Linked DNA regions of Homo sapiens: region 1 is linked to region 2. Evidence: fine-mapped expression QTL. A gene starts in region 2. The other region holds a variant in brackets. All regions are shown on one strand. Distances are from middle to middle.

What was found. PIP is the estimated chance that this variant, and not a neighbour inherited with it, causes the effect.
Region 1: its variant is the best candidate, but not a certain one, in a credible set for the expression of ATR in whole blood (TOPMed, PIP 0.77).

Annotation. Positions count from the first base shown.
Region 1 is chr3:142,381,742-142,384,776 of GRCh38, reverse strand. It overlaps XRN1 (5'-3' exoribonuclease 1), which reads left to right. Exons shown (of 41, transcript NM_001282857.2): 21 at 92-254; 22 at 1,364-1,477. Among named protein-coding and RNA genes, the nearest start is that of XRN1, 65 kb to the left of the region's middle. The variant TA/A (reference allele first, on the strand shown) is at 1,731.
Region 2 is chr3:142,577,736-142,580,235 of GRCh38, reverse strand. It overlaps ATR (ATR checkpoint kinase), which reads left to right and starts at 1,503. Exons shown (of 47, transcript NM_001184.4): 1 at 1,503-1,590. The coding sequence starts at 1,532. RefSeq lists enhancers at 1,153-1,252, 1,553-1,712.

The DNA.
Region 1 (3,035 bases), 200 kb after region 2:
GAGTTGATAGTTTACGATAGTTGACGATTATCGTCCTAGAATATCTGCATACTCATTCATATGTATATTTCATGTTTATTCTTTATTTTAGCTACCTGAGAAGAAAAGGAATAATAATAAATGAAACATCTGCAGTTGTGTATGCTCAGTTACTCACAGGTCGTAAATATCAAATAAATCAAAATGGTGAAGTTCGTCTAGAGAAACAGTGGTCAAAACAAGTTGTTCCTTTTGTTTATCAAACTATTGTCAAGGTAAGTCTATATCAAGTTTCAATTCTGTCTTAATATACACTATTAATACACTATTCACTGTATAATGAAAAGATATGTTAATATAAATAGACTAATTCAGCAATGTATAATAGAGATTATCATTTAATATAATTTACAAAATAACTTATTATTTGTAAGAAGTATTACATGCTCAGACACTCAGTATATATAGTTAGGAAACTTGTCTTTTATGCTTTCGTATGCTTTTTTTTTTTTCTTTTTTTTTTTTTGAGACAGAGTCTCGCTCTGTTGCCCGGGCTGGAGTGCAGTGGCGCCATCTCGGCTCACTGCAGGCTCCGCCTTCTGGGTTCACGCCATTCTCCTGCCACAGCTTCCCGAGTAGCTGGGACTACAGGTGCCCGCCAGCACACCTGGCTAATTTTTTGGTATTTTTTAGTGGAGATGGGGTTTCACCATGTTAGCCAGGATGGTCTCAATCTCCTGACCTCGTGATCCACCCACCTCGGCCTCCCAAAGTGCTGAGATTACAGGCGTGAGCCACTGCGCCCAGCCTTTTATGGTTTTTTTTAAGGACTTAGACTCTAAAAGAAAAAATCCCACCATTAACTTACACCCTTGAATTTTATATTTTTATTCTTCAAAAATGTTTGCCTTAAATCTTATAAATGTAAAAGGCATTTTATTTTTGCATTTATAATCTTAGATACGATAAGAGGACAAAAATTTTTTTAAGTATGTAGCGATCCTGTAATTTGGGGTGTTATAGTACAGTGTAGTGATTAAGTGACTTAAGAACACTGGCTGCCTGAGTTGGCTTCTTAGCTGCATGACCTTGGACAAGATTCATCCCCTTTCTGTGCCCCAGTTTTGTCATCTGTAAAGTGAGGCTAATAATGGTCTCTGCCACAGAGGTTTGTCATGAGGATTAAATGAACTCAATAAATGTGTGAAGCACATAGAAGGGTGCCTGCCATATAACCAGTCAACAAATTTTAGCTCTTGGCATTATGTAGAAAAATCTTCACATTGACATTTGCAAACAGCATAGTCATAATCCCATAGGAAAAAAACTTGATACGCAATCTATAGAAATTATGACTAAGATTATTTACTTTTATTTTATGTAGGACATCCGAGCTTTCGACTCCCGTTTCTCCAATATCAAAACATTGGATGATTTGTTTCCTCTGAGAAGTATGGTCTTTATGCTGGGAACTCCCTATTATGGCTGCACTGGAGAAGTTAGTTTCCATTATTGTTACTGATACATTTTTCTCTAGTTTAAAGCAGTTACTTAACTTCTCTTCATTTAGGTTTAAATTAAAATATAATAATGAAGGGAAAAAATAAAGAATTTATCCATGTAACTTATGAACACAGTGTTTGACTTATATATCTAAATACTATATATCTAAGACTAAAGACCATATACTTTTAGTCTTGAGCAGATTAGGATCAAGAGGTGGTGTGTTCAAATCCTGATCTCTTTTTTTT[TA/A]GCAGTTTTGTTTATTGTAGTGGTATGGATGAAACGATTTTGTAACTATTTTAGACATGTAATAGGCTTGAGTGAATTTGTAAATGCGTTCATATTTGAGGAACTTTGGTTCTTAAATGGAAAAAGGTACATGCAAATATGGAAGGAGAGAAAGCAAGAAAGAACCTATAGGGACAGATTTGGAAGTATTAGTGTGAACTCTTGGTTTCTAAAATATGTATATATGTTTGTATATCTGTGTATATAGGCACATATATATGTGTATATATATATACACGTATGCATATGTTTCTAGCTCTATTTGCTGAAAGGAATAAGAAGCAAAGACACCTTAGCACAATGAGCACATGTACCACCCAGATCTTGACGTCTAATTTCATAACTCACTAAAAGGAACAGGGCTTCTCAGAGAAATTGCTGATTCTGGATCTGGGGCAGGGAAGATACAAGATGAACCTGGAACATCTTGTTATGTCAGAAAGTAAGGAGGTGCTCAGAAGAATGGTGGGAGTATGTCATGTAAACACAGGAACCAGGTTGAGGGTACTACCACTGCCCAAATCTTGGATACTTTGAGTGACAAAATAATTAAATTCAGTAGTTAATTATAAACCACTGGGGGGAAAACAGGAATTCATGATTCCGTAGTGACAGTAAAAAGATAAATAGGGAAAGGAAGGTCTCTTGTCTGTAGTAGCATGTAAGAAGTAAATTTGGAGAGAGTGCTGCAGTTGAAAAACCATTGTGCAACCATTATGATAAAGATTGAATCATGTAAGAATCATCTTTGGGAACTAAATCTAGGGGGCATTTTTTTTTTAAATCAGGAGCAGGATATTTGCATGGTCTTAGAATGTATCTCCTACAGATTATTTATTAGCTGCAAGGGAAACGAAAACTGTAATTATGCAGGAAAAAAATTGAGCAACATATTAATGGTATAATCAAAGTTAGCATCGCATTAAAGGACAGATGAACATTGTGTACCTCCAGATGTAATACCCTTTGGAGGACACATCACCTATGCAGTATTCTGGCTGTGAATGTACTACCATAACCTAATTATGTGGAAGCATCAAACAAACCCAAAATAAGGAACTGTTTTTTTGTTTTGTTTTGTTTTTAAAAGGCAGGTTGGAGAGGGAGGGACAAATTATATATTCTTCAAAATGTCAATGTTGGCTGGGTATGGTGGCTCACTCCTGTAATCCCAGCACTTTGGGAGGCCAAGATAGGCAATCACTTGAGGCCAGGAGTTCGAGACCAGGCTGGCCAACACAGCGAAACCTCATCTCTGCTAAAAT
Region 2 (2,500 bases):
ACCTATGTGCCAGGCACAGTTTTAGGTCCTGGGTATCTGAGAGTGAACAAAATAGACAAGACCTTGCTCTCCAAGAGCTTACACTCTAACTGGAGAGAGACAATAATATAGTATGTCCGGGTGTGGTGGCTCTCACCTCTAATTCTAGTACTTTGGAAGGCTGAGGTGGGAGGAGCGTGTGAGGCCAAGAGTTTGAGACCAGCCTGGGCAACATAGCAAGACCTTGTCTCTACAAAAAATAATTAGCCAGGCGTGGTGGCATGTCTGTAGTCCCAGCTACTCAGGAGGCTGAGGCAGGAGGATCAATTGAGCCCAGGCTGAGGTGAGAGGATCGCTTGAGCCTGGGAGATTGAGGCTGCAGTGAGCTATGATTGCAACATTCATTGCACTAGAACCTGAACAACAGAGTAAGACAATGTATCTAACAAAAAAAAGAGGGTGAGACAGAATGTGTATATATGTTAGTCTATATGAGGCTCTTTGGTGTTAATTTGGCAAACACCTGAAGGAAAAAGGGCAATGACAGAGTGGTGTTCAAGGCAGAGAGTACAGCAAATGCAAAGTTCTTGAGGCAAGAGCATATTTGGCTGTCATTCCATCACTTTTTTCTTTAAGATACTGTATCGGTTAACTATCCTCATGTACCAAAGAACAAATGTAAACATACTGCATGACTTTGAGTGATTAACTACATAACTTTGACATGTCAACAATCTCTTATGGTGGTCATCTTTCCAATAAATTGAGTTGAGCTAGAAAATGTGTATTGCCAAAATCCATTGATTTACTTTAAAAATTAAATCACAGGTTGCGGATGCCCGTAATGGTGGCATTTCCACACACAGTACTGTTGCTGATTTGATGAGACACAAATATATTCCAACCCCATTTTCAAATATTAAAAGTTGGTAGGGTCCTCAACGAAACCTAACAGTGACTTCAAGTTGAAAAAAAATGCTTAAAAGGAAAAAAACAGGGAGAGCCCACCTTTTGGCCTGTATCTCTCAGAAAGAGGGACAAGAGCGGTGGGAACGTGAGGAACTTTTAAAATGTGAGAGCGTTACTCTGGGGAAACCTGGAGTTTACTCTTGGCCTTTACTCGCTGGACTGTCATAGTTCTCACATTTGTGAAGCGAGTCTGGGCTGGCGGCCCTCAAGCCCTATCCTCCCCCGATGCGGAAGTCTTGCTTCTCTGTGCCTCCCAGGCTTGAGAACAGCAGAGTCTGGCCGCTCAAAACGAAAGCTTCACGAACGTCGCTCGCTCGGTGCTGAGAAAGAAGCCTGACGCGACCCGGGAAACTTGACCGACGCACGCCCGCCCGCTTGCCCCGCCCCCTAACGGCTTCCCGGCTTCCCCCGGGTCCTATGCAGAAAAGACGCTGGGCCTGGCAAGCGGGGCCAGTAGCGGCTTCCGGGAGGAGTTTTGGCCTCCACACGGCTCCGTCGGGCGCCGCGCTCTTCCGGCAGCGGTAGCTTTGGAGACGCCGGGAACCCGCGTTGGCGTGGTTGACTAGTGCCTCGCAGCCTCAGCATGGGGGAACATGGCCTGGAGCTGGCTTCCATGATCCCCGCCCTGCGGGAGCTGGGCAGGTAGGGCTAGGCCCAGCCTGGGTCCTGCATCCTCCTCCGCTGATTCCGGCTTGGGTTTCACGTGCTCTCCCCTCCCCTGCTGCGCTATGGCTGGGATCCCCTAAGCCCCCGCTGCGGCCCTTGTGGAGATGCTCCGTGGCTGATTTGGGCGCTTCTCCCTCAGAGTGCCCGTTGATAGCACATGGGGCAGTCGCCACAAACCTGCGGGAAGCCGGTCCGTGGGGGAGAGAGGCGTCTGCCGGCCCTGGTTTACCACTCACCCCGATCGAGAGTTTGCTTCCTGCAGCTGGAGGAAGAGTCCCTGCTGATCGCTTTCTGGTCACTTTTCTACACTCATTTTCTTCTCGAAAATCTTTTTCCTTAGACGAGGGACTTGACCCATCAGTTTCTGTTCTTTGTGATCACTCGTGGAGGAATTGGTTTTTAGCCTTACATTTTGTCCCCAAACTGCCCTTGAAAGAAAATCACCGCTTCTCATTTTCTGCAAGTGACATCACTTGCTGGAAAAGGCAGTTTTTTTCTTTGAAGTGAAGTCATAGTACATACTGAAGATGTGACCTCCCTCGTATTGATCGTCCAGTTCCCGATCCGTTATTTTAGTCAGAAATTGGAGAGATAGACCCCTGGGTCCACAAAATCTCAGCGTGCACAGAGTGTTGCCAAAATTTGGAGACAATTTAATATTTCATTTGCAAATGCATGTTGTCTGTAAACCTCATGAAAACCAGTATCTTACCACAAGGAGGGAGAGGTGTTGATGGCTCTCACACCTCTTCAATACACAGGCAGGCTTCCCTGAACCAGGCCTAAAGACTCGGTAGAGCTTGTTTTGCTTTGTTTGTTTTAATTCTACACTACTGCGAACAAGAAATAAATAAGCTTGTGCTGCTACCGCAGTTAAATTATCATT